4 linked regions of the Homo sapiens genome follow. The protein of the gene in region 2 interacts with the protein of the main gene of each other region in a pairwise test. Each region holds a gene or a part of one and is shown on either strand. Other genes may lie near its edges. The genes, in order: RNF216, UBASH3B, DMRT3 and DOC2A.

What was found.
Region 1: the proteins of UBASH3B (region 2) and RNF216 interact in binary tests that used the Homo sapiens proteins (3 or more experiments, as listed by UniProt).
Region 3: the proteins of UBASH3B (region 2) and DMRT3 interact in binary tests that used the Homo sapiens proteins (3 or more experiments, as listed by UniProt).
Region 4: the proteins of UBASH3B (region 2) and DOC2A interact in binary tests that used the Homo sapiens proteins (3 or more experiments, as listed by UniProt).

What each region holds. Positions count from the first base shown.
Region 1 is NC_000007.14:5,708,096-5,716,220, reverse strand, and holds part of RNF216 (E3 ubiquitin-protein ligase RNF216), read left to right. Parts: intron 1-1,030; coding exon 1,031-1,168; intron 1,169-3,357; coding exon 3,358-3,506; intron 3,507-4,310; exon of another isoform or gene 4,311-4,381; coding exon 4,382-4,460; intron 4,461-8,125.
Region 2 is NC_000011.10:122,791,393-122,799,517, reverse strand, and holds part of UBASH3B (ubiquitin-associated and SH3 domain-containing protein B), read right to left. Parts: intron 4,817-8,125; coding exon 4,684-4,816; intron 3,363-4,683; coding exon 3,242-3,362; intron 2,608-3,241; coding exon 2,485-2,607; intron 577-2,484; coding exon 484-576; intron 1-483. UniProt on the Homo sapiens protein: Interferes with CBL-mediated down-regulation and degradation of receptor-type tyrosine kinases. Promotes accumulation of activated target receptors, such as T-cell receptors and EGFR, on the cell surface.
Region 3 is NC_000009.12:971,771-980,045, reverse strand, and holds the start of DMRT3 (doublesex- and mab-3-related transcription factor 3), read right to left. Parts: upstream 3,392-8,275; 5' UTR 3,045-3,391; coding exon 2,591-3,044; intron 1-2,590. UniProt on the Homo sapiens protein: Probable transcription factor that plays a role in configuring the spinal circuits controlling stride in vertebrates.
Region 4 is NC_000016.10:30,005,014-30,009,152, reverse strand, and holds the end of DOC2A (double C2-like domain-containing protein alpha), read left to right. Parts: intron 1-47; coding exon 48-157; intron 158-1,853; coding exon 1,854-1,980; intron 1,981-2,062; coding exon 2,063-2,122; intron 2,123-2,204; coding exon 2,205-2,368; intron 2,369-2,475; coding exon 2,476-2,557; intron 2,558-2,643; coding exon 2,644-2,740; intron 2,741-2,821; coding exon 2,822-2,967; 3' UTR 2,968-3,639; downstream 3,640-4,139. Other genes in the region: INO80E (INO80 complex subunit E), read right to left, coding at 4,102-4,139. UniProt on the Homo sapiens protein: Calcium sensor which most probably regulates fusion of vesicles with membranes. Binds calcium and phospholipids. May be involved in calcium dependent neurotransmitter release through the interaction with UNC13A.

The sequences.
Region 1 (8,125 bases), on a different chromosome or scaffold from region 2:
TTCTAATGTGGTATTAAGAATGGGTTGGTGGCCGGGCACCGTGGCTCGTGCCTGTAATTCCAGCACTTTGAGAGGCCAAAATGGGAGGATTGCTTGAGCCCAGGAGTTTGAGACTAACCTGGTCAACATAGCAGCACCCCATTTCTAATAAAAATTAAAAATAAATAAATAAAAGAATGGGGCTGGATGCAGTGGCTCACTCCTGTAATCCCAGCACTTCGGAAGGCCAAGGCAGGCACATCACGAGGTCAGGGGTTTGAGACCAGCCTGGTCAACGTGGTGAAACCCCGTCTCTACTAAAAATACAAAAAATTAGCTGGGCATAGTGGCGGGTGCCTGTAATCCCCACTACTCGGGAGGCTGAAGCAGGAGAATCGCTTGAACCTGGGAGGTGGAGGTTGCAGTGAGCCAAGATCGTGCCACTGCACTCCAGTTCGGGCAACAGAGTGAGACTCCATCTCAAAAAAAAAAAAAAAAAAAAAAAGAATGAGTTGGTGATTGGATCCGTTGCTATAGTTAATAAAAGGAGTCAATAGCCTGGTACATTACTTGAGGTTGCTGCTTTAGTTATAGCTTCAATAGTCCCTTAAAATAAAGCGCAGACCTCGATAGACCCATTCACACTCCTTATGACAAGAACAAAATTCAACTTTTGAAAGTTTTTTGGGTAACATCTCTCATACTCCTTATCCTTGCTGTTTATAATCACATTAGCATCTGAGTACAGATGTTCTAGTTCCCTTTGCACCATGGGATTGAATATGATAACTTTATATAAAGAATTACTCTAAAGAATACCAGAAAAAAAACACGAAAACCTCGCTGTTTTAGGTATGGATTAATACTGTGTTAGTATCTTGAGCTAGATTTATATAGCACGAAACAGCATATCATTGTTTTATGGCCCCTAAAATGGGTTGCTTTACCTCAGAATTTGTGTGGGGGGTGGCAGAGAGATGAGGATGGGAGACAAGGCTCCCCCTCTCCTTAAGTGCAGGACATTTCATGTGTGTTTCTTGACTGCCTGCAGGATGGCCAGCTGATTGAGTGTCGCTGCTGCTATGGGGAATTTCCATTCGAGGAGCTGACGCAGTGCGCAGATGCTCACTTGTTCTGCAAAGAGTGTCTCATCAGATATGCCCAAGAGGCAGTCTTTGGATCTGGAAAGGTAAGAACTGTGTAATATGTCCCATGTATATAGGACACATTCCTGGAGTCTAAGGAGACCATGTTGATAGATAAGTGTAAGTGCCTCTTTGAGGGTGAGGTGGAGTTCTGCTGGTATGCTTATGTGTACATTACCTGATGTATGTGATTATGTGGGTTCTCTGAGCACAGCAGATTTCTTTTCAGGGCACAGTAGAATTCTTCCACACTCCCACGCCTAGCCGCAGAGGAGCACCTCCTTCGTTCATCATCTTATTTGTATTCAGAGGGAAGGTTACCTCAGAAAGAGAGAACCTTGCAGCCTATTGGATTAAATATATATTAAAATAACATAACTTACTTTACACAAGATCATATTTCTCTCTCCAAAGTGAGTTTCTCTGGACACCAGCATAACAAACACAGTATGGGAATTTTACATTGTTTTACACCACCGAGTTTGTGGTATTTTGTTCCAGCAGCAATAGAAAACTAACACAGTGATTAAGAAGATGACTTTTTGCCCGGGTGGCTCACGCCTGTAATCCCAGCACTTTGGGAGGCCGAGGTAGGCGGATCACCTGAGGTCAGGAGTTCAAGACCAGCCTGACCAACATGGAGAAACCCCATCTCTACTAAAAATACAAGATTAGCCAGACCTGGTGGCGCATGCCTATAATCTCAGCTACTGGGGAGGCTGAGGCAGGAGAATTGGTTGAATCTGGGAGGCAGAGGTTGTGGTGAGTTGAGATCGTGCCATTGCACTCCAGCCTGGGCAACAAGAGTGAAACTCCATCTCTAAAAAAGAAAAATAGGCCAGGCGCTGTGGCTTATGCCTGTAATCCCAGCACTTTGGGAGGCTAAGTTGGGTGGATCACAAGATTAGGAGTTCGAGACTAGCCTGGCCAACATGGTGAAACCCCATCTCTGCTAAAAATACAAAAATTAGCCAGGTGTGGTGGTGGGTGCCTGTAATCCAGCTACTCGGGAGGCTTAGTGAGCTGAGATCGCACCACTGCACTCCAGCCTTGGTGACAGGGCGAGACTCTGTCTCAGAAAAATAAATAAATAAAGTTTATGTTTTTTCAAAGAGCGTGACCTTTGGAGTCAAGCAGAATGCATTGGGCCATGCCCCCATCAGCCATACTAGCCCTGTGATCTTGAGCAATTTAAATTCCTTAAGCCACTGTTTCTTCCTCTGTAAAATGGAAATAATCATAGCATTGTTTTGAAAGCTAAATGAGGTGATGAGTTTAATGAACTTATTGTTTGACACATGGTAAATGCCTCATAAATTTTAGCTAGTTATTTTTAAAATGTCGTCTTTTTCCATTTGTTTTCTTTGGTGTTTGTCTTTCATGTGGGAAGCATTCCTCATGTCTGACACTTTTTGTTCATGTTAAAGAGCTGTTTGAAAGCTGTGTGAGTAGTGGGGCTTATAGACCAGTGAGTTTGACTCTAGGTGCATAGGAGCCAGTTAGCTTTTATATTATGAACCTGAATGGCTCTGAAGTCTCTTACCTGGGGTGATTCAGTCTGCCTCCTGCCTGGTGGGTGTGAGCCCATTTTCCAACATTCTGAAACTGAGGGGGAGGAAAGGTCTGGAGAGTTCTCTGTTCATTATGCAGACTCCATTTCAGACTCTGACTTCAGGCCACCCCTCAGCTCTGCTCTCCTCTATGAGTGGTTTCCAGTCCAGAGCCGTGTGGTCCAGCTGTTCAGGAGATCTTCCTCATTTCTCTCAGAGTCAGCCAATTCCTTCTGAAGCGGGTAGGAACTAGAGGCTCCACCCATGTCCCTGTTTTCAGTTTATTACTTTGAGTCCCTGCCCCTCCCCACCACTCAGCTCTGCTTTCCAGAGGTTCTCCAGCTTTCTAATATCTGTAGAGGGGAACAACTTCTCCCCAGCATCTCCTTTTCAGACCCTAAGCTATGGGCTTCTGTGTGTGGTCTGCTAAGCCATTTGCCCTTCCGCCACTTTCAGTCTTTGTGGATTGTGATTTGGGCTAATAGAGGTCCTTTAGTGATATCAAAGATGTACTGGATTTTTGTTTCATGGTTTCCATGATTTAAGTGTGATTTCTCAGAGATGAACAGGCAGAGAGATCCTTGCTATGTTGTCTCAGGATCTATGTTTTTAACCACTGACGCTTTTTATTTTTCTATAAATGGTATTGATTTTTTTTTCTTTGCCTTTTCGCCTTTTTCTAGTTGGAGCTCAGCTGCATGGAAGGCAGCTGCACGTGTTCGTTCCCAACCAGTGAGCTGGAGAAGGTGCTCCCCCAGACCATCCTGTATAAGTACTATGAGCGAAAAGCCGAGGAGGAGGTTGCGGCAGCCTACGCCGACGAGCTTGTCAGGTTCGTTCTCAGGCAGAGCGTGCCATCTGCCAACTCTTCCCCATTGTGAAAACTACCTGGGCACTTGCATCAGATGATGAAAATTGTGTTTATCTTCCAGGTTTTTTGACATTTCTTGCTGAGAAATAAGATTATCAATAATTTTACTTATTTATTTTTATTTTTTACGCCTCAGAACCATTGAGTAACCAGTAATTCTATTAATGGAAAAATCTGCCCCTCAAACTTCTTTTTTTTTTTTTGAGGTGGATTCTCGCTCTGTCGCCCAGGCTGGAGTACAGTGGTGCAATCTTGGCTCACTACAACCTCCGCCTCCTGAGTTCAAGCAATTCTCATGCCTCAGCCTCCTGAGTAGCCTGGATTACAGGCGTGCACCACCACATTCCAGCTTATTTTTAGTAGAGACGAGGTTTTGCCATGTTGGCCAGGCTGGTCTCCAACTCCTGACCTCAAATGATCCACCCACCTCAGCCTCCCAAAGTGCTGGGACTACAGGCGTGAGCCACCGCGCCCAGACTGTAGCTCAAACTTCTGTCTACATATCTTGGCACCCCCAAATCTTCTGGCCCGTAGATACAATCATGGTGCCCTGGGCTGGAGGGAAATCGGTATATGCAAGGAGTTCTCATTAAGGTTGGGACGTGTTTATTGAGTGGTTTATATTCAGTCAGGACCTCATGTGGTGCTTATGTTTCCTGATAAGAGCCAGCACAAAGAAGAGGTTCAATCTGTGTTTTTAAGGAAAACTAAGGAGTATAAAGGGGATGTGAATGTCCAGCTCAAAACTCCATCTTCATATGAACAGCCACATGGAGCTGGAACCAGATCAGGCTTTAATGTTTGAAGTAATGTCAGTTCTGCTGTTCTGACTCTAGGTGCCCGTCCTGTAGCTTTCCGGCTCTGTTGGACAGTGATGTGAAGAGGTTCAGCTGTCCTAATCCTCACTGCCGAAAGGTAGGGAGGCACATTTTTTTCTAGATGTATATTGAATTATGGTATTATGGGCTGCCCTCATGGCCCAAATATCTGCTGTTTACCTGACTGCTGATGTATAAGAAGGATTTGAGTGCTTTCCTTTTCATAAGCAAATGAGGACGAGTACTTTGTGAGTAACGGTTGACATGGTTACTGAGATGGCAGCCACTCTTGCCACTCCAGTTACAAAGCTCTGGATTCCTATTTTATATCATCTTCTTTAGGACAGATACTATAATGTAAAGTGGGAAGTGTTTAGTTTTTCTTCCACTGTGTCAACATTTTTCTTGCTTGCTCTCTTCACCACCTGTGCTCAAATAGCCCCTGCTACCCCTCCCTCCCCACACACACACCTTTTGCCATTTTCAAAGTCCAAACGACGCTTCTTTGATTGAGGAACTGGGCATCTTAGTGGCATCTCCATCACATCTGGTAGGTTATTTATTTGACTGTTTCTCCTCATGAGAACTGACTATATTACGTGGGAGCAGAGCTGTCTAGGTGCATTACTGTTGCAGATCTTTGTTCCCTTTAACTTGGCGCCCTGTGAACTAAGAATGTCTTAAAATCTTTCAGCTATTTAGAAGCCACTTAGAGTTTTTAGTGAATATTAGCATCCACCTAGACAAATACGCTCTAAGCCATTTTTCTAAAATTGCATGATTAGAGTTGAACACTGCAATATCTTTGCCTTGGGGAGAGTAAAGAAATTAAGGTAGAGATTAGAAAAGGAAGAATAAACTAAACTAATGGATCAAAACTTTATTTCTTTTGTTTTCAGCATTAATATTTCTGGCCATTTTATATGTTCGCACCCCAGGCTGTTGCTATAACAATTGTCACAACAGTCGCTGGCATCTTGCAGCTCTTAAGAAAGCAGAGTGCTAGCGTGTCCCTTGTGTGCTTCCAGTGGGTCAGGTGTTGGACTGCCTGGGGAGGTGATGCCTACGCTAAGATGCAGCAGATAAGGAGGAAGTAGCCAAAGGATGGAAAGGGTGGGAGTGGAGTGGAGATGGAGAAATGTTCTAGGCCCCGGGAGTGGCAGCAATGTGGACGCTTACTGGTGCTAGGAGTGTGAAGGAGGCTCATAAGCTGAGTAGGGGCAGGCCCATGCAGCACACTGTCCTGAGGTGGGGAGAGATAAAATATAAGGAAAGTCTACTTGCCTATTGAGTAGTCCAGGTGAGAAATGTACAGCACTGCACAGCCTCTTGGGTCTTCATGAGTTGCTTAGAAGGAGCTGGGAACTACATTTCCTGGTAAGGTTTCAAAGAAGGTCTGCCAGTGAAAGTGCTTATGTACAATTGGGAAGGCCAAAGAAGAGGAGAGACCATTATTCTCTGAGGACGTTTTTTGTTTTTGTTTTTGTTTTTAAGTTTTGAGGCAGGGTCTCACTCTGTTGCCCAGGCTGGAGTGCAGTGGCACGATCTCAGCTCACTGCAACCTCCGCCTCCTGGCTTCAAGCAGTTCTCCTGCCTCAGCCTCCCAAGTAGCTGGGATCACAGGTATGCGCCACCACGCCTGACTGATTTTTATATTTTTAGTAGAGATGAGGTTTCACCATGTTGGCCAGGCTGGTCCTGAACTCCTGGCCTCCAGTGATCCGCCCACCTCAGCCTTCCAAAGTGCTGGTATTACAGGTGTAAGCCACCACCCCCAGCCTGAAGACATTTAAAAGCAGCTGCATTGGTTGCCCAGTGGCTCATGCCTGTAATCCCAGCACTTTGAGAGGCTGAGGCAGGAGGATCTCTTGAGACTAGGAGTCCGAGACCAGCCTGAGCAACATAGACCCTATCTCTACAAAAAAAATTTTAAAACTCAGCTAGGCATGGTGGTGTGTGCCCATAGTCCTAGCTACTTAAGAGACTGAGGCAGGACAATCAGTTGAGCCCAGGAGATTGAGGCTGCACTGAGCCATGATTGCGCCACTGCACTCTAGCCTGGACAACAGACTAAGACTCTGTCTTTAAAAGAAAAAAATTTAAAAAATAAAAGCCTGAGGGCACACATGAGTCTGGAACAGCATCTAGTGAGTATCAACTTGGCATGTTGGTGGGAGCTTCCCAGGGGCTCTTAAGATCCCAAATAGGAACACCACATATGTTTTTGTTTGTCTATGGGAGGAATATACATGGCCTGCTGAACTTGAAGGTAGCCATGTAGCTTCTTGTGGTCAGTGAAACATGTGAGTAGTTAGATCACTTGCAGAAAAAGCCGTAAAGGCATGTGGTGTGGGGTAGTGTCAAGATGACAGAAGAGAAAGCTCCAGACCCTCTTTTTCCCATAGAGAGAACAGTTCAACAACAACGGAAGGACCATTTCTCTCTGTGAGAAATCCAGAAACCAGTTGCATCAAAGGCTGGGGAATTTGTGACGCTGGCTCTCCAGAGTTCCTCCCCCTGGCACAGCACCATGTGATTGGGAGGAAGCTCCCAACTCCTGGCATCTTTCTGGGGAGGAAAAAGAAGACTGGAACATATATCTAATATTCAGACCTTTCAGGAGGCTGCTCAAGGGACTGGTTTCTGTCTTGTCTCACAGGAAAGGGCACCAGGTTGGGGACCTCTGAGGACAAATGGGATGGTGAAACTAGCACGTACTGACTCCTCATTGCCCTCTCCCTGCTCTTCTCGGGAGGGAAGGAGTTGGAGCATGAGTCCAGCATTCTAGGTTTTCTGGAGTCTGCCCAAGACTCTCGTTCCTGTCTCACTCGATGAAGCACTGATGGGACCTGGCATGGTCTAGGTCCCTGGGGGCTGCTGAGAACAAGAGAAAGCTGGGTGGTTTGTACTGCGCCAGAGGACCCACGGTACAGTAGGCAGAGTCCAGTGCACCTCGAAGGCTGCTTTTTGGGTCCAGGGGAAGAGTAGAGCATGTGTTCAGCATTTGGGCTTCTCAAGGGGCTGCCTGAGGGACTGGCTTCTGTCTCACCCAACTCACTGCTGGCAGAACCCAACCTACTCTAGATGCCTTGGAGCTGCTGAGGCCAAAAAAGAGCTGGGCAGCTTACAGCAGCTCCAGAGGGCCTGTGATACCTCAGACAGGCACCAGAAGAAGCAAGAGCTTGCAAGCTCCTGAAAAAAGGAAAACAAAAGCCTGAGCACTTATATTAGCCTACGATTTAGCAAAATCTTCTTGCAGGAAGCCTATTTTAGAATAAAGTATGAGTATCTCATGTAATTTATTGAGTACTGTACTGAAAGTGAAAAAGAGAATGATTGTATGGGTACTTGAATTACAGTTTCTACTGAATGTGTATCACTTTCACACCACAGTAAAGTCAAAAAGTGTAAAACCATTGTAAGTTGGAGACCATCTGTATATGCACCCGACATCAGTGCACCCAAATATGTGAAGCAAATATTGACAGCCGAAGGGAAAAATAACACAAAAATAGTAGGAGATTGCAATACCTCACTTTCAATCATTGTTAGCACCACCAGGCAGAAGATTAGTAAGGAAACAGCTGACTTGAACAACACTATAGACCTAACAGACACATACAAAATATTCTAGCCAACAGGCACAGAAAACACTTTTTCTCCTCTGTTGCGCATGGAACATTTTCCAGGATGGAGAATATTAGATCATAATACAGGTCTTAACAAATTTAAGATCAAAATCATACCAAGTATCTTTTCCAG
Region 2 (8,125 bases):
AGGCTGCCAGAGTATTTTTTTTTTTTTTTTGAGATGGAGTTTCACTTTTGTTGCCCAGGCTGGAGTGCAATGGCGCAATCTTGGCTCACCACAACCTCCGCCTCCCGGGTTCAAGCAATTCTCCTGCCTCAGCCTCCCGAGCAGCTGAGATTACAGGCATGCAGCACTACACCTGGCTAATTTTGTATTTTTACTAGAGACGGGGTTTCTCCATGTTGAGGCTGGTCTCGAACTCCTGACCTCAGGTGATCTGCCTGCCTCAGCCTCCCAAAGTGCTGGGATTACAGGCATGAGCCACCGTGCCCGGCCCAGAGTATGTTTTTGTGACTTGTGCAAAGATCGCCTTCTGAAAGAATCCTTGCTTCATTCCAGATTCAAAGCTTTCAACTGGCAAATGTCCCATGGCTCTAAGATAATTTATGTGTGGGGCTGCCTAGAAAGAGAGGGATGGACTACTTGTTTTTGTCAACCTGCAAGTCTTACCTTTCAAGATATTGTGTGCAGTCTGAACGCAGCGAAGGGACGGGGAGCAATAGACATGATCGATAATGGTATTGCTCTCTAATAAGGCTTCACCTGCAAAGAAAACCACAAAAAAATCAGTCTGATGGATTTACTCAGTCTCACCTTGACCCGCAGTGTGAGAGGGGGCCAAGCAGTAAGCTCCTGTAAACCCCTCTTTCCTAACTGGGGCTCACATAGAGCCAGTAGTTTCAGCCTTTGTTAGTTTCTAACAAAACCCCTCATCGGCGTTCCTATGAGAGCAAGCGACAGAGCCCTTCTTGTCTTGTCTTTTTTTTTTTTTTTTGAGATGGAGTCTCGCTCTGTCGCCAGGCTGGAGTGCAGTGGTGTGATCTCGGCTCACTGCAACCTCTGCCTCCCGGGTTCAAGCCATTCTCCTGCCTCAGCCTCCCGAGTAGCTGGGAGTACAGGCGCGCACCACCACACCCAGCTAATTTTTGTACTTTTAGTAGAGATGGGGTTTCAACATGTTGGCCAGAATGGTCTCGATCTCTTGACCTCGTGATCCGCCTACCTCAGCCTCCCAAAGTGCTGGGATTACAGGCGTGAGCCACCACACCTGGCCCCTTCTTGTCTTTTCTTTCCCTTCCCTCTGGTGCTAACAAGTGGTAAAGGCTTTAGCTAGGAGATATTTAGAAACAGGACAATACTTTGGCTTCAAGTTTGTGAAAGAGGATTTATTTTATGAATATTAGGTCTTGTTTTAATTTTATTCTGTGCTAACCAAAATCTCAACATGTCATATTTTTAGATACCAGAGATAAATCCCAACACCTCATACTTTAATGCTATCCTCATAAAATCCACTTCTTTAAAAAATTTATTATTATTCTTAATTTAATTTTTAGAGATAGGGTTTTGCTCTGTCACTCAGGCTGGAGTGCAGGGGTGTGATCATACCTCAGTGCAGCCTCGAACTCCAGGTCTCAAGCAATCCTCTTGCCTCAGCCTCTCAAAGTGCTAGATTATAGGTGAGAGCCATCACGCCTGGCCTGGAATCCAGTTATTTTGTCTACTGGATTAAATCCAAACACCTTAATATGGTGGCCAAGGTCTTCCATGAACTTGCCTTTATCCATCTTGCTAGCCTCATCTCTGCCTTGCCTCACAATTTATACTCTAGACACAAGACACTTTGTTTCCCCTGCATTCCTGAGGCTGTTTCTCAAGCCTAAGACTCTTTATGTGGTCCCTCCCACTGAGAATGCCATTTCCTCACTCCTATTCCTTCTTTGCCCAGCTAACTTCTACTTCAGCTCTCAGCTCACCTCTTCACTCTTAGATGTCTTTTTGTGTTCCCATAATATTCTGTGACCATGCATAGCTCTATGCATATCACTATGTCTGGATGCATGCAATCAATACATACACATTAGTGCATAGCTCTATGTATATCATATTGTATGATATTTATCCACACATAAGTTTGTTTCCCTGACTCACACTTGGGTTCCCCTAGTCCAATACCTTGCACAAAGTAAGTGAGCACTAAATATCTGCTAAGTGACTGAACAGAAAATACTATCTCCCCGTGCCAGTAATGGAATGGGCTTGCAAAGAGCTAGGCATCTTCAAAGGATCAGTTGGCCTTTACAAATTCAGCAAGTCCAGGGTCCATCTTCTTCACTCTTGTCCTCTTCCACAGCCATGTTTGGCAGATGCTGCTGTCTTGAACTAGAAGCTGACCTGTCTGCTACATCCAAGAGTGAGCACAGTAACCCACGCCATTACTGGATCACGTGCTCCTCAATAAGGACCACACCTCATTCACTTTGGTCAACCAACCCAGGGCTGAGCACAGTGTCCTAAACTTAATGGTTGTGTAGTAAGTTCCTTTTGAATTGAGGAAACTTGTAGGAAAGTTATAGAAACCCACAGGAAGTGTCTTGCATATCCATGGTACCAGTGTTTTGAAGGAGGAGGCAAGAAATGCCTGGAGTGCAGTCACTCCAGGATACTTACCCACTAGTCTTGCTTGCATGCATCCAAACACAGTGATGGGAGCATCTTTCTCGTAATCTCGGAAACCACCACTCCGCTGAGGTAAACTATGAGGCATGTTCAGGTTGGTGCGTATGTAGCGGCCTGAAAAACAAAGAGGTTAGACAGAGGATACATACATTTCTTGTTTACTTGGGACTCCCTTACTGATCCTGACACTCTCCACCCCCATTCCTTCTTGGCCAAAGAGATCACACTGAGCTCTCTGGAGCTGATAGAAAATATCAAGGCTGACATTTTGTTTCATAAAGTGACTTGGAATCCACTTTTCCATTCTACTGACAAAAGTGACATGAGGTAGTTTCTCAGTGAAGGTAATAACCAGGCACTTTAAAGCAGGTGAGATTCCCTGGTTAAGCAAGCCTCTGTATCTTCAAATGCTACTCAAATGAAAATGGAACCGAGCGAGCCAGGGAGATTTAATGGCAGGAACTCTGGCCATAGGATCAGGGCACGTTTCTGCTGCTGACTTTGCCATATGACCTGGGGCAAGACATCTGTCTTCTTTGGTCCGTGGTATCCCAGTTTATAGAATGGGGACAAGAACACTTACTTCTTCTCTAAAGCTCAAGACAATCAGGAGGGGCTTACACATGACAGACATCTTCTATAGTACGCAAAACTATGAATGACTCCATCTAGATAACTGTAGCTTGACTGTGCCGCCTAGAGGCCACTATGGGTATGGCAGTGCTGAGCAGGCCCACCACCAACTCACCTTTGGCATCGAAGCACTGGGACAGCCAGTACTTCCCAAACACAACATCCATCCTCTCACCATGCCGACACACAAAAAGGCATCGCTTCTGGGGGCCGGGCTGGCTGTTGACCCTCAGCGGCTGCAGAGAAAGAAAGGCTATTAGTGAAGACACACATGGCAAAGTGGACATGTCTTGGAGCCAGGTGCCAGGTGAGCTGAGCTCTACTACCAAAGTTCTGCCAAGGTATGACTTGGTGAGGACAGTAAGACTCGTCCTACAGACCTCATAAGTTATTTGGAGGCTGGAATAAGATAAACTGCATGTGCTTTATAAAATAGGAAGGGTTATGAAAAGGGCATTATTGTTGCTACGGCTGCTCTTTGTAGGAGTAGCATTTGGCCATTAAAGTGGCCACTAAAATATGACGTCCACTTTAAGTTACAGCTCAGAGGTAAAACTAGCCATTCATGTAGAGAGAGCCATCTAGTGGGGCACCTTCCCCCCAAAAAGGGGCAATTCATCAACTTCTTCAGGGAGTGAGGACTTCTGTGATCACAAATGTGTCTACCTCTTCTCTAAAGTGTGTGGACAGACCACATGGTCCTCATGGTCTGCTCCAGTAATGAGACCCTGTTTTCCTATTCTAATCACTATGTAGCCTCTGCTGTCTGACTATATATATGATCCCCAAAATGAGACAACTGCTACCTCTGGGTGATGACATAGGCAAATCTAGTCAAAGGCTTGTCCAAATGACTTTGGCTTCTATAACTGCTGGATGGAACCTTACAGCTGTTTCTGCATTCCGTCTTTCTGATGCAGTCAGCTTTTCCAGTTTCCTTAGCGCGGGCCAGCACTTCACATTTGCTTCTAGTTGCCCTGACGTGGTTAATATGTGGAACGGTGGCATGATCCTTCCCATCTCTTTTCCTGTTGTTCCTTAATTTAAATCCTGGGCTCCAGCCACAATGGTTACTCTCTTGATCCTCAACATGCTTGAACTTTCAGCTTGCCTCTATTTGTACTGTTCAACAACGACTCCCTGCCTCCTTCCATCTCCAACCTTCCTTGAAAAAGTTAACACATACTGAGCACTCATTATATGCCAGTTATGGTGCTAAGAGCCTAATTTTATTATTTTCTTTAATCTTTGTAACAACCTACAAAACAGATACAACTATGGGCATTATTCCTACTTTAGAGATAAACTCTCCTCCTATCTCTGTGGAACAACGTTCCTTATGAACCTAGGTTCAAATGCTGGAAGTAACTGTCAGTACTGCTCATCTGACTCTTCCTAGCCTTGAATTTTTGTATATCTTTTATAATTTGGTGTACTTTCTTCCCAAGAGATCGTGGAAGCTTTGGAGACAGCAAGGGCAAGGCCTCATGCTTAATAAATAGGTTCTCAGTGAATCCTGGTTAGAGTTGGGGGTGTGACCCTAGCAATCAGCCTTACCTGCATGGGCTGGCAGATGATAGTAAGAGGAGTCGTCTCCCCGAGCCCCTGGTCCTCATAAGGCCGCCTCTCCAATACTCCATCCCCAAACGTGAGAGAGTTGGATGACGATGTATTTAAGATTGAATAAGAACTGCAGAGGAAGATAAGGAAGGTGTTAACTGCTCTGGCCAGCAGTCATCAGCACTTCCTCCTGGGCTCAACAGGAGTGTGGGAGTTAACTCAAAGCCCTCTGTGGGTAGCACAATGATGGGGGATGCTGAGCAGGAGTGGCCTCATTCCTAAGGGAAAAATACCTTGTTTTATACTGAAGTCTTGCAGTTAATAAATTAGAGGTAGGCCGGGTGTGGTGATCACACCTGCACTTTGGGACGCCGAGGCAGGCGGATCACCTGAGGTCAGGAGTTTGAGACCAGCCTGGCCAATGTGGCGAAATCCCATCTCTACTAAAAATACAAAAAATCAGCTGGGCGTGGTTGTGCGTGCCTGTAGTCCCAGCTGCTAGGGAGGCTGAGGTATGAGAATCTCTTGAACCTGGGAGGTGGAGGTTGTAGTGAGCCAAGATCGCACCACTGCACTCCAGCCCGGGCGATACGGCGAAACCCCGTCTCAAAAAGAAATAAGAATAAAAATAAGTAAATAAATAAATTAGAGGTAGATGGATTTCTGCACTGAGGACAGATATATTCATTCCTTTGGGCAGGGATGGATCCTAGTGATTTTGTGCCATGCATGGTTGGCACCAAAGACAAGTTCAAGAATAACAACGTATCAATGATCTGTTTGCAGCTATTTTTCTGGTTCAAAAGAAATCTACGATCCCTGTTGCCTTTAATATTTCCCGTGGTAATTTCCATCTGAAGTGAAGAGTGATGGGGGGTATTTTCACCATCTCCACCTCAGCCAGTGGCTCCTAACAGTCAAGGAAACTTTGTGCCAAAGTCCCCTATTCTACCCTCTTCGGTCTCCAAACCCTATCTCCCCCTCAATCACGCCTCCAACAAGATGATTACAAATAGAATTATTTCAGAGAAGACCATTCTCACCAGACGTTTAGAGCTGTGAGCCAAGAACTGTCATTTCTGAGTGTAACACTATAGCTACAGAAGCCTAAAAGAGGTCTTGCTGAAAGGAAGACAGTCAAAACCTGCCAAGCTTAAATTATTGTCAATAGTTAAGACTTCCACAAAGCTTTATCTAATAAACATTGCAATGTAAATATGGTTGTTAGGCAAATCCAGTGAACATCTTTGGAATCACTGAGCAGAGTCCAGGGGAAACATTTAAATTTTATAGATTTCTTGCTTCTTTACAATTTGGGTAGCCATCCATCCCAGTTTGCTCCATATACTCCTGGCTTGCATCTGTTGATGAGGCAACCCGTTTAGGCTACCACCTGTTCTGGATTATTCACTTTTAACATTGTATTATCAGAATTTTATTTTATTTTAGAGACGGAGTATTGCTCTTGTCGCCCAGGCTGAAGGGCAATGACATGATCTGGGCTCACTGCAACCTCCACCCTGCAGGTTCAAGCGATTTTCCTGCCTCAGCCTCTGGAGTAGCTGGGATTACAGGCGTGCGTCACCACGCCCGGCTAATTTTTGTATTTTTAGTAGAGATGGGGTTTCACCATGTTGGCCAGGCTGGTCTCAAACTCCTGACCTCAGGTGATCTGCCTGCTTGGCCTCCCAAAGTCATGCTGGGATTACAGGAGTGAGCCACTGCACCTGGCCCATAATTTTATTTTTGAAAATACCTTTTTATATTCACCAATATAATACAGCAAACTGGTTGTTAGTAAATTTTTGTTCCTTCACTTTCAGAAGTGGCTCCTTTTTCACTAGAAGTGATAGACTCATTCTATCTACTTATAAACGAAGTCTCAGAAGTCTCATGCCCTGAAAAACTGATTTTGAACCCTTGTGCATATCAGAATCACCAGGAGACTTAAAAAAAATACACTCGTGCTGGGGTTCTGCTCCTCACACATTGTGACTCAGTAGGTCAGGGGTGGGACCCAGGAACCTACAGTTCAACAAAGCAGCATCAGTCCATCTGCGTATGTTGCCAAGTGAAACCTGTTACAGTAAAATTTAAGTAACTGTAGCCCAAGGAAATCTTGTGCCGTTCACACAGTATAATAGACCAGCTATTCTACTTTATTTTAAACTAAGACCCTCCCAAACATCACACAGTTCAAGAAAATCCAGTTTGGCTGGGCACAGCGGCTCACGTCTGTAATTCTAGCACTTTGAGAGGCCGAGGCAGGCAGATCACCTGGGGTTAGGAGTTCAAGACCAGCCTGGCCAACGTGGTGAAACCCCGTCTCTATTCAAAATACAAAAATTAGCTGGGCGTGGTGGCACACACCTGTAGTCCTGGCTACTCGGGGGGCTGAGGCAGGAGAATCACTGGAACCCAGAAGGCAGAGGTTACAGTGAGCTAACATTGCACCACTGTGCTCCAGCCTGGGCAACAGAGTGAGACTCCATCTCAGAAAAAATTAAAAAAAAAAAAAAGAAAAAAAAAAAGAAAATCCAGTTTTATTGTCTGACTCATCAAAGCTTCAGGGTGCAAAATGTCTGGCTACCTAGAATCGTTCTTGTACATATCTGTTTGTTTCTTTATCGCAGCTGTGAAGATACTGATAGGATCCCTTCTCTCCCTCCTTCGTCTCCCATGGCAAGACGAATGCCAGCCTCTTTCCCTTCTTAACTGTCATTATAATCAAAGGACCTGACTCACTCTGAGACAGCGTGGAGCTGCCAGTTCCAGTAAGAAAACAGTCAGATGCTTCTTGCTCAGAACAGTGGAGGGAGGAAGCCGGGCCTGACATCCAGAACATCTCAAGCATCGGGAGAGCTGGCTTCTCCCTGCAACACACCAGGCCTGTGCTAAGCCCAAGCGGCCAGGCAGCTCACCCAGCTTCATCAACTTGTCTTGGTTCATAACTCAGAACCAAGTAAGACACTCCAGTTAGTGTGGAGAGAACATATTTCCTTAGGAGGGACTCAGAGAACTGAGAAGCACTTGGCAGGGAGTGTTGTCAAAATCATTGACCCCCAGTCATGACTTGTTGCCTGGATCCCCTGGGCAACTCCCACCATGCCAGCCAGGCCATGCTTGACATCCCCCTGGGGCTCTACCTCCTGATGTCTCTCTTGGGTTAGGAGAGAGAGAAGGTCTGTGTCTGTCTTACAAGGAAGCTGGGCTCTGCCTCCTTGAGTCATTTGACCTCTGGGGTTAAATAGGAAAGTGCAGTTCATCTACAGGATTGCTTTTATGGAAGACACATTTCCTTTGATGAGCACTAAGTGAGGACTGGCAAACACAAGATAGAAAAAAGAGAATAATCATCATTATGCAAATGGCGATTTTATAGTCACCGCTATACACCAGACTCTGAACCATGTAAAGCTAAGCTCTGTATTGCAGTCTT
Region 3 (8,275 bases), on a different chromosome or scaffold from region 2:
AAAGACTAACCACATTTCAAAGTCAAAGTTCACAAAGTAATAGATCTACATTGCCAGCAGATATTGAAAGATTTCTGATGGTCTGTATACTTAATGTACATGTGGAACTACCATTCCAATAGAGTTCTGCTTACTCTCTGCACTTAGTTTTGCTTACTCTCTGCACTTATTCAGGAGTAGTTCTGATATGCTTCTAAATACATATGGAATGTTATACACAAATACATTATTAGAACAACTGCAAAAAGGGTATAATACCTATAGCAACAGGCAGTCTCAGTGAGCAGTTTTCTTCAGCTTAAACCCCAAATAGACTTTATTTCTACAAGCACTGTGTAGAATGGATCCACTTGTATGCCTGTCTTCCTAAACAATCATCTATTATTTTCCTACCTTTCTCCCCACTCCCCATCAGAGTGGTGATTTGCTTTTTTTTAAAAAAATGGGAATTATGGGGTCACAGCAAGTGAAAGAAGAAAACAAAAGTTGTGTACATCAATGTACAAGGTATGGGGGGGTGGGGGTGACCAGCTGGAAACTGAGCCCTTGGTCCCTGATGCCTCGGTCCCCCAAAGTCCTCACTTGGACCTCGCCTTGTGATAAATCCTATTCTCCTTTGCAATTACTTGTTTTCAATTCGGAAGGCTCAGGCTATCCCTGAGTGCTAAGTAGGAGTAAAACAGCACAGCTCTGCTTTGTCCAGTTGAGATCCGTTTCCTTTTTCTATTCTCCCAAAGCACGTATCCTGCTGCCGCTGCCTACTCTGCCTTCCTGCCTGCCCTCACTCCTCCTCCTCCTGGGGTTGTGTTTTTAGTTTTGTGACTCTTTAGAAATCATGAACTTTAGCTATCCCAAAGAATACTCTGAAGAACACAGGATGTGAAAGGCATCTCCTTGGATAAAAACCACAGAACCCAATGCCCGATCACAGGAGTGCTGCTGAGTTAACCTCTGATGTTAACTCAGGCCTCTGCCCTAGTCCTGGGGGAAACGGAACCAGAGAAGCTGGAAATGGAAAAAAATTAAGAAAATATATTGGTACAAATCCAATTCTAGAGCTGAGACCAAACTCTTCCTTGTTATTTGTTCAAACCTATGGGAGAAAAATAATAAAACCTTTTTCTCCTCCCTCCTCTTCGTCTGTGACAAATCCATAAATATAAAAAGATGAGACAGACAAAAGAGAGACAACTGGCGATCATTTCTGAGAAACGTTTATATGCTAACTTGGATTAAATATCCACAAAATCCAAGTTCGGCAAACTCTCTTCAGGCTTTAAAATTCCCAGCTCTACTGTCACACAGGCTGTTCTCAGAGCTTCAGGCCTGGAAAGCATGGCGGAAAGACAGGGCAGCAGAACTCCACCTGCCAGTCACCCGTTGACTCACCATGAAACAGGTGAGTCCGCCTCACTTCCTCAGCTCCACAGGATCCAGACAAAGCAGTCCTGGGCTCCTGAAAGCCTTTCTCCGAAGCTAGGGGTACCGTCTTTAGGGAGTTGGCAGGTCAGTGTAGGTACCAGTTTTGCCACAGTTCTACTTACAGGAGGGCTCTGGACCTTCCCACTCCTAATTCCAGCATGCCCCCTTCCGGGAGAAGGTGGGCTGTGTTCCTTTGCACATTTGCCCCAGTTAAGGAGAAACACCAAACACATATCCACTGAATTCCAAGAGCCATCAAAAGAGCTCTTGAGCTGGGCAGAACCGCAAGCTAGAAATTCCCCAGGAAGAGAGAGACTAAGAGACTCAACTCAGGCCTGCCAAGCTCAGGAGGCCTGGATGGAAACGGATGGGTGGTGGGGGATCAGATTTTTTGTATTCCTTTAAACCACGAAGACAGCTGAGGGCAGCCTGGGGAACAGTGTTAAAGGATCTAGGAGGTTCTGCAAAGGAGTGAATTCTGGGCGCATCAGATTCTTTTCCCGCTATCAGCTCACAAGCCTTTCCGGACCCTTTTACTATCATTGCTAAATGGAACTTATTTCACCAGTTACAAGAGTCTGGAGGCCACGGAGCAAAGCTAGAAAGGCCAGGGTTCTGAGAGTTGGATACTTGTCCTCACTCAAATTTTCCTGGGCCCTGGGCAGGGCCGGGCCGGCCGAGAAGCACAGCCAGCTCGACTCAGCCGAGTGTTGGCCTTGGCTCCTTCCCTACACCTACCTACCCATTCCAACCCCCAAATGGCAAGGACCTCTAAAGCCTGCAGCCAGGAAAATCCGACCCCACCGTAGTGAGTGTGCGCACGTGGGTTTTAATTTTGTCCTGTCTCAACTCCGTTGTCTCCCTGCTCAATCTGACACGTTCCGAACCCTTCAACCTGGGAAGGCACCTGGCGATACTGACGCACAGTCCCGTCGTTTGGCTGCCCGGAGGCGCCTTCCCTGCGGGCGCGAGTGCCACTCGCGCTGGGTCCAGACTCAGCCGGCTTCTCCCGGGAGAGGAAGCCCCGGCCTGGCGGAGAGTAGGAAGGAAAGCCCCGACAGGCCCACGTCCCAAAACTTTGCCTCCAGTCCTCCCAAGTGGAGCTGCAGCTGGCACTCCGAAGTTGCCCCCGCGCCCGGCCAAACTCCCGCACCTCAGACGCTCTTACCTGGCTTGGCGAGCTGCGCCTGCAGAGCCCCGGGCTGCGGCTCGGCAGTCCAACGCAGCGCGGCGGCCGCGGCCAACTCGGCAGCAGGGCGCGGCGGCTGCGGCTGCGACGGCTGAGAGGCTGGCGGCGGCTGCGGGGCGGCGACGGCGTCCCCCGGCGGCGGGGGCCCTGGCAGAGCGCGCAGCGAGTCGGGGATGAGGCTCTCCAAGCTCTCGTTGGCCTGCTGCCGGCGCAGCGCCACCTGCGCAGCCATGACCCGCTGCCGCTCGATGATGAGGATGCACTTCTCGCAGGTGCAGTCCTTGAAGCGGCAGTAACGCTTGTGGCCCTTGAGCCAGGACAGGACGCCATGGTTGCGGCAGCGCGCGCACTTGGGCGTGCGCTGCAGGGGCGCCCGTGGCGGCTGCGACACCGGGCCGCCCATGTACAGGTAGGGGGAGCCGTAGCCGTTCATGCCCCGGGCTCCCGAATGAGTTGGCAGCCTGGCTGCGGGAGAGGGCCAGGGAGCGCTGGACGGCGGGGCTGCGAGGCCCGCTCAGGGGCGGCCTCCGGGCGACGCGGCCCTTGGTCCCGCAGCCCCGGTGGTCGTGTGTGCTCCGGGGCGGCCGGAGGTGCCGCAGTCGTCTCTCCAGCTCCCTTCGCGCTCACAGCTCGGCCTCCCAGCTCACGCCCAGCCAACGCCGACGCGGGCCTCTGCCTTGGGCGCGCAGCCGGGTCGGCACGTCCTCCTTCGCGGAGGCGCTGCGGCGGCTGCAAGGAGCCGGCGACAGCTCTGATTAAGGTCTGAGCCAGCTCTTCTGCAGCTCCCTCGTGAGCCGGCCGGACCCAACACCTCCGCCGCCCTCCCCCAACCCCTCCTCCTTCCCACCGCCACCCCCGCCCCTGGGGTCCCTGTCTCCTTGCACTCCCCGCCCCACGCCTTCCTCCTCCTTTGCGCCCCTCGGGTGCCTGCACTTCACCTTCCTTGCCACCTGCAGCCAGGCCACTCTCGCGGGGGCGCTCGCGGCCCCCTCCTCCAAGCCCTCTCCGCTACCCCAGCCCGCGGCTGGAGACTGCGGCGCTCCAGAACGCGGCGGTGCTCGCGGGGCGGAGAAGGGGAGGACCAGCGGGAGTGAGGGTGGGGGTGCCTGTAAGCGAGTGAGGTGGCCGCTCCGCTTCTCTCTCTTCTCCTCCCTCCAGTCCAGATCTGGCCGCGTTTTTCCGAGCCCAAGGCCGCTTTTATCCCGACATTTGGCCGCAGAAGCTCAGCTCCGGGAGAACTCGAACCTACGGGAGTGTTGCGGTTGCACCCCGGACCTGGGTGGAGTTTAGGATAGGGGAGTGAAGTGATGTTGGTTTAGGAAAGTTAGGCTCTTTTCGTAATTTCCTTTTAGAACGTATTTTTTTCTCTTTTGTTGCTTTAGAAGAAAATGGTTTTGGAGATCTGCCGGCCCAAGGATGACAAGCCATTTTGCAGGCGAATTTTACTTTTCTACCCTCCTGTCCATGTTTTAATATAAAACAGTATCCTGAAAGGTCAGGGACGTACGTGCTCCTGTAAAGGATTTGTTAAGCGCCGGGTATAAACTTTCAAGGGGCAGACACAGAAGCCACATTGGCGCCCCCAAAGTTACCGATATCCTCTTCCCTCGCTCCCAGCAGCTACTGGAAGCAAACGGAGGTCTTGCGCCAGCCACTCAGTTCAAATCCCCACGGATTCTGTGATTCAGTTATGGATATGGGATGGGGCCACTTTTTCACCTCCTTAACCCATAGACCCCAGTCATAGATGTCTTGGGGGAGAGGGTCCTTCACAAGATGACAGCAGAAAACTTTGTTTAGATTATTTGCGTGTTCCCATTCTCCCAGGAGTAGCGGGCTTGGCCTAGTGCAGACTATCGCTATATATGCACAAAGAAGGCCCTCCACCCTCGCACCTCCCCACTGCCCATCAGCAAACAAGCAAAAACCAAAAAACAAACAAACAAACAAAACAAGTGGATACACTGCAGGGCAGCACAATAGCTCTATGCGAAGCGGGGCAGTTCCAGAGCCTTCGGTGGATGCGCTTCTGAGAGCGTGCACCAAGCCCATCTCCTGGTGGGGAATCAAATGCTAGATGAGAGCGTAGGCAAGTCCGCTGCAATGTCCGACCCCTCATGGGCACAGAGGCCCTTGTCCCCTCGGGGAGGCCGCTTTTCTCTGTACTGCCCTGGAAGTAAGCAAGCAACCTGAAAACTTTCCTCTGGTGTTTGCCATGAATTCAAGGGAAGCACCTCCAGGCGTTCTAGCAGCCAACCCTCTGCCCAGAAGGCTGATTTGCGGAGAGGAGGGTTGAAAACCGAACCCCAGTTGTGTGTTTCCCTTGAAGCCCTTAGCTGTTCCCGTTTCATACGCGTCCGGGAGGTGGGGATCGCGGGACACTGACCTGGTAGAGTGTGGACAAGAAGCTCTAGCATTCGAGTGCTAACCCTGGGAGGCCATCCTCCAAAGCCGCGTGGGGTAGGGACCCCTCGGTCTTGCCCCTTCCCCCACCACTTTAATCCTTCCTCTAGTCTCAACCTTCTCTAGGAAAACAAGCCCTAAAATACAACTGGAAGGAATTTTGTAAGCTCTGGGGACGGGAGGCAGAGGTCGCCCCCAGCCCTGTAGGCCCGAGGCTAGGAAATGGGGAGCTGGACGCGAGTCATTTAACGTGCTGCGATATAGAGGGCCTCAAATGACACCTTAACTGAAAACTATTGCGCTGAAACCTCCGGATCTCTTGGAAACGTGGGGACCAACGACTTTTTTCAAAACCAAATTTCTTCCGATTTTCTTCAAACAGTGAAACGAGGAAGTATAAAGAACTTGAGTATGAATAAATTTTTAAAAGGAAAGCAGAAGAGCTCTGCACCAGGTTTGTGGGGGCACTTTCACTACCAAGGCGACCCCTTTTCCCCCGTCGGTCACCTAGCCACCCTATCTCGTTGCCACTCAAACAGTCTGGCATTTGGTCCCGGGGGCCCGTTTCACTCCGGTGCACATCGGGGGCTGAGATCTAAATACTCATTTGATATAGTGCAGTAATCCTTTTCTCATATTTGATGGGAATGTTTTCCATATCCCAGTATTTGACAACATCTCCCTATAGGGACAGGTTTGTATTTATGTTGGTAAAATGTCCCCTGCCTCAAAGTCTATTGTAACCCAACACCTGACAACCCCGAGTCCCATTTCTGTTTGCAGAAAGGGTTTATTCAAGCACATAATGGGATCCCAGCAGAAAGCCTTTCAGAACAAGGGGCTGTGGTAAACTTCACCACATGAACTCCGTTTCCAGGGCTATTAAGCTTTTAATTGGAAAATAGCAGAGGAAATTTCAAGGTGACTATAACGTGTTAGCAGTTAGTGCAGAGAAGAAAAGCCGAAGCGGGAATGAATGTAGAAAGCATATGGTCCAAATCACATTTAGGAGGAGCGGCCTGCTTCTACTAAGTCCCAGTAGCTTACACACTTATGGGAAAAATCATCAAAGAAATGGGAAAGGGAAGGGGGAGGATTACAAGTAAATGTAACCTCACTAGACTAGATCCATTGGTGCTCTCCTGTGGATGGTGTGTTCTCAAACCGCAATTAACTGAGTAGAATTCTGGCAGATAATCGTGGAAGAGGAAAAAACAATGTGCGTATGTGGGTCTTTCTCGGCACACACAATCGCTGGGTGTGTGTACATGTAAAAGCTCAGGATGCAGGTGCCCTTGCTGAGAAAGTGAGGACTCCAGATCTGGGAGTCCTGGTATGTGCTCCTCATCCCAACTAATACTCAATCAAAACGGCAGTTTCCGATTGTCCCGGATGTATAACACATCAGCAAATTCTCTGCTGGATTCTCATGGAAGGGGAGGTCAGGGTTCCTATTTCACTGTTTTCATCGCGACCACGATGATGTCAGTGCAGGCAGACGCTGGAAGCCTGAGCGTGAGGAACCCCTGTGAAAACAGAAAAACTTGTCCCCTCTTCCTGTGCGTGAACTACTCAGCTCTCACCTGGTCAGCTTCTCGACCTCGCTCTTCGGCCCGCTTCAAATTGAAAGGAGTTGGGGGAATGTCCAGCCAGGCAGTGGGGCATCCAGCAATCAATTTCTTTAGATGGCAATAATGTCTTGGTTCTCCCTCAGTTGGCTGGGGACAGACTCATGCAAACCCCCCATGAGATCCCCGAAGCCGCCCTCCGGGGCGAGGGGTGGAAAGCAGAGGCCGCTTGGGGTCGGGGAGACGACTGAACCCCGGGGTCACCGGCCCGGGGATACCGCTGAACAGGGGAAGGTCCTGGACCGCTGTTCCCACATAATTTTGGTAGGGGAAGAGACGGGTCGCAGCCTGAGGCCTGCTCCAGATCCCCACGTGCCGAGGCCTTTGGGGACAAACAGGGAGAGCAGAACGGCCTGTGACCTCGCTGGCCCTAAGCCGACCGGGCGGGAGAAGCCAGGTCCTTCATGTTCTCGAACTCTCGAAGCCAGCAGCGGCTCACGCCTAGGAGTTAGCGCTCTCCCGCTTGCGGATTCCTCAGACCCAGCCTGGATACACGACCGCGCCAGCCTTTCGCGGGGTTCAGGTGTAGCTACAGCACGGCTTCATCCGAGGGCCCAGCGCCGCGACCTCAGCCCCGCGCTTTCGAAGGGAACTGGAAAAGCGCTAGCCTGGGGCGCTCCCCGCTGGGCCGCGGTTCCTGGAGGCCCTGGGGGCAGCCGCTCGTCCGACTCCAGCTCCCTGTCGGGAGCGCCCGCGGCGGAGCCGACGCCCAGTAGTAGGAGGGCGTGAGTCCGGCTGGGGACGTCGGCCGCTTCCCCACACCGTCCTGGAAGGGAGCGTCGCAGACCCTGTCCACCTTAAGTGCAAAGGAAAAAAGGCACGTCTCCACCAACGTACAAATGAGCAGCGCTGATGTTAAGTCTTAAGATAACCTTTACCCTGCGACTTTAGAACACAAGGGCTGAAAAAATAATTTTAGGTAATCTGAGCAACATTCAAGGGAGAAGGAAAGTTTCTTCTCCCCAGAGCGTTGGCTCTCAGGGATCTGGGGCACTTCCTCCTCGGGACAAGCCCCTTTTCCAGAAAACCTCACCAGCCTCCCGCCTCCTCCTTTGCTGTCCCTGAACAAAGCCCAGCCGCGGGGAAAGCAAGCGGATTTGCGCGCTTCTGGGAAAGCGTTCGGATTCAGGGGCCCGGGAGTAATGAAGGGAAACGGCCCGCGCGGCCGACACCCCAGGAACAGGGGGCGCGAACTTTGCCTGGAGGCCAGGCCGAGGCGCCCTGCGGAGGCGCGGGAACTGGGAGGAGGGGAGGCTGAGGGGCGCCACACCAGGACGAAAGTAGGCCCGGGCCCTCTCCTCACTTTCCCAGGAGCCTCCTGGGCGGGGCAACTTCCGGAGTGCTCGGGGCCCCGCCCCCCAGACACGCCCCGCTTTCCCCTCCCAGCCCGGCCTCGCGGGCCGCGGCTTTCAACTGTGGAAAAGTTCCGTTTGCTGGTTTTTTGGACCGGGGCCGGGGTGGGGACTGGAGGGGCGCCGAGGGGGAGGAACTTAAACAGGTGGTGGAGTGGAGGCGACCCGCTCCCGAGGGCAGGCGGGTGGGGGAGGGGTAAGGGGGCGACTGTTGAAGGTGAGAATCGCGAGCGGTTGGCAGTGGCCCAGCTTCAAAGGCGCAGGGCCTAGAAAAGGCTGTG
Region 4 (4,139 bases), on a different chromosome or scaffold from region 2:
TGGGGCTGGAGGACAGGTATTGAGAACCTTTCATCCCCACATCCCAGGCCAATAAGCTAAAAACGAAGACTCAGAGGAACACACTGAATCCCGTGTGGAATGAGGACCTGACTTACAGCGGGATCACAGATGACGACATCACGCACAAGGTGCTCAGGTGAGGGCCCCCCTCCCCACCACCCAGCAGCAGCTCGGGGACAGCTGACATTGTAACCGCTGGTTGGTTGATCTATGTCCCATTAAGCCCGTACCTCTCTGATGCTCAAGAACCATCAGCGGCTCCCTAGCCCCTTTGGCAGCAGGCCAAAATTCTTCCCTGCCATTCCTGCCCCTCAATATCTCCTGCCTGCCAGGTGTGGTGGCTCACACCTGTAATCCCAGCACTTTGGGAGGCCGAGGTGGGCGGATCACTTGAGGTCAGGAGTTCAAGACCAGCCTGGCCAACTTGGTGAAACCCCCGTCTCTACTAAAAATACAAAAATTAGCCGGGCGTGGTGGCATGTACCTGTAAATCCCAGCTACTCGAGAGGCTGAGGCAGGAGGATCACTTGAACCCGGGAGGCAGAGGTTGCAGTGAGCCGAGATCGCACCACTGCACTCCAGCCTGGGTGATGGAGACTCCATCTCAAAAACAAAACAAAAGTATCTTCTGCCCCTCAAACAGAGGACTCCCTTCTTCCAACTGGCCAGTTCCACAACTCCTGAACTTTTCCTGTTGTTTTCTATCTGGAAAGCTCCTTCCTGCCAGCCTAAATTCCGCTCATCTGAGGTTCAGTCCAAGCTCTGCCCCCTCCCAAAAACGTTCCTGGGTTGCCGAGACCCCTTCTCAGAGCCCTTGGCTTAAGCCAGACCTCTGCAGCTTTGGTCTGCCCCTTCCGTGCCTTGAGTTCCCCTAAAATCTCTTAAGGAGTGAAGTCTTCAGGGACAGGGAACTTGCTCCGTCATCCTAGGAGATGGAGATGTAGGGAGAGTACTCCCTCAAGTCAGGTGGCGGGCAGCGAAACCCAGGCTCTGGAGAGACCTCTGCCTTTGTGCTTGGATTTGCAGCTGGGACCTTCCCTGATGGTCAGGGCTGTGCAGCAGAGAGGCCACCTTGGTTTCAGCTATTCGGGTGGAATGGAGGGGAGGCCAGAGGCCAAAACCAGAATGAGACCAAAAAATGAGCGCTCACCAGGGCCCAGCCCAGGCTTAGCATTTTCACATTTCTTTCTTTCCCTTGACTATCTCCATTTACAGATGGGAATTGAGGCATAGGGTGATCAAGTGACTTGCCCAAGGTCACACAGGTGGCTCAGAAGTGGCAGGGCTGGGATCTGCCCATCCTCCATGCCACAGATGCCCAGCCTGGTAGTGGGTCACTGCGGAGGCAGGGCAGGGACTGCAGGAGGACAGGTGGCTGGAAAGCAATCATTTCTTAGTGAGTCCCTGCGGGGCTGGCTCTCTGCTGCATGCAGGAAAAGGACGGGGGTTCCCGAGGAGGCGTGGGGTACTGGTCTGGCTGCCCAAGGCTCCAAGGCCCTTCTAGCTCTCACGGCCTGTGTCTATGGCCACATCCACCGTGGTGTTCGGCTCCTGCCCCCAGGCCCTGAATGGAGGCAGTGAGCAGCGTGCTCCAAGATTTCTGAGGGCTTCCCACAATGGCTGAGCATGTCCTGATGGACCAGGGACAGCCGGGTGGCTGCAGAGGGAGGGACAGAGGAATGGGCAAATCTGCTTGTCCTTCTCAAGTGCCAGCCTGTCTTCCAGATGAGACGTAGTGTTTAGGGCAGAGCTGGGCTGGTCCAAGGCCCTTCCTACACCCCGGAACGGGGCTCAGGTACCCCAGGGGCCCTGACACTGCAGTTCCCGACCAGGATCGCCGTCTGTGATGAGGACAAGCTGAGTCACAATGAGTTTATTGGGGAGATCCGCGTGCCCCTCCGCCGCCTCAAGCCTTCGCAGAAGAAGCATTTTAACATCTGCCTCGAGCGCCAGGTCCCGGTCTGTGTGGGGGCTGCAGGGGCGCCAGGGGAGGGGGCCCTGGGGAGGCCAGGCTTCCAGAACCTTCTCTTTGCCCCCTCAGCTGGCGTCCCCCTCTTCCATGTCAGCGGCGCTGAGGGGCATCTCCTGTTATCTGAAGGAGGTGAGGCACCTCATGGGGATGGGGATGCATGTGGGTGGGAGGCTGCAGGGGCCCAGGCTGACCCTGAGTCTGTGCCCCGCAGTTGGAGCAGGCGGAGCAGGGGCAGGGGCTGCTGGAGGAGCGTGGCCGCATCCTGCTGAGTCTCAGCTACAGCTCGCGGCGCCGGGGACTGCTGGTAGGCATCTTGCGCTGCGCCCATCTGGCTGCCATGGACGTCAACGGTTACTCGGACCCCTACGTCAAGACGTGAGCCCTTGCTCTGACCCTCTCCTCCCCAGGGAGCCTGCCCTGGCCTGAGTTGGGCCTGGCCTGTCCCTCACCCCTCAGTTCGTCTCCCTCCACCCCACCCCCAGGTACCTGAGGCCCGATGTGGACAAGAAATCCAAGCATAAGACGTGTGTGAAGAAGAAGACTCTCAACCCAGAATTTAACGAGGTACCCAGGAGGGGACGGGACATGGAGGGAGGCCAGGGAGGGGCTGGGGAGCTGGCTCACGAACGGGTGGCCGGCCTTGTCCCTAGGAGTTTTTCTACGAGATAGAGCTCTCCACTCTGGCCACCAAGACCCTGGAAGTCACCGTCTGGGACTATGACATTGGCAAATCCAATGACTTCATTGGTGAGGGAGGAGCTGGCTGCGGGTGTTGAGGGCGGGCAAGTGGCAGGGAGGTGGCCCTGACCCTGCCCACCTGCTCCCCAGGTGGCGTGTCCCTGGGGCCAGGTGCCCGAGGCGAGGCTCGGAAGCACTGGAGTGACTGCCTGCAGCAGCCGGACGCAGCCCTGGAGCGCTGGCACACCCTGACCAGTGAGCTGCCCCCTGCGGCCGGGGCTCTGTCCTCAGCCTGAGTGGACAGCAGTGTCCCGGCACAGGCCCATCGAGCCGGGTCCAGTACCCAACCTTCGCACGAGTGTGTTGCACGTTTACACAGGGTGGGCTGCCCCCACCCTGCACTACCTATTTTTGTGAGTCTCCGTGACCCGGGTCTGTCTGCTCATGAGGGGCTGCGGAGTTCTATATTCACATATGCAAACCTCCTGCCTGACTCGCTAGTCCCTGCAAATATGCAAACCCCCCATCATCTGCACACCCGGGCAGTGCTCAGAGCCCGGCCCCAGGCCCCCGCGCTCCTCACTCCTGCCTCTCCACGCTGCCCCGTCCCTCTCCCCCAACAGGGAGGAGGTCGGATTAGGGGAGGTTCAGAGGAGGAGAATGTCTCAAAAAAAAAGGACAAAAAACAAACCCAGAGCCACTCCTTTAATACAGAAACTTCATTGAAAAAACCTAGCCCTGTACAGCTGCCCTTTTAAAGAGGTGGCCATTGCAGGGTCTCTGCCTCCCCAGCAGGTGGCAGATGCTCCCGGCCACTCGTTTAAATAACTGTCCCCTGGAGGGGGCCGGGGTTTGAAGGCAGGGCCCCTGCCACCCTCCTGGGGGACACCCGTGCATGTTTACGCCTTTTCTGGTTGTGTCAGTGGCCGGAGCATGGCAGCTGGGCATCAATAAACACCTCCGAGGAAGCTGGACTCGTGTGTGCTGGCACGGGGAGGGCGCCGGGCGGGGCCGTGGTGGGCATGGCGTGATGTCACGGTCACTCCGGGATGTCGATCACCAGGTCATCGTCTCCATCCAAGGCATCGTCCCCGCTACCTGCATCGCTGAACATCTGCCGAGGGACCGTGCTCAGGATCGTGGGGGGGGGCATCTTAGGGGGTGGGAGGGGGGTCAGGGTTGTCCCGACCCCAGCCCCAGAACCCCGGCCAGGGAAGGTCAGCGGCCCTCCCACAGGGCAGTCGGGGGGTCCCACCGCCATCTGCAGCAGGGGGAAGAAACACAGGGGGACTAGTCAGGGAGGCACTGGGGCCTCAGGAGACTAGGCTTTGCCCCCCAGGGCAGCTCTGGGGAGGGGGAAGAGGCCCTGGGCACAGCTGGGCCAACCCATGCTGCACTCAGGGCCTGCCCCCCTCAGCCCCTCGAGAGCCTCAAACCAGCAAGTGCCTGGGGGTGGTGATAGAGGTGA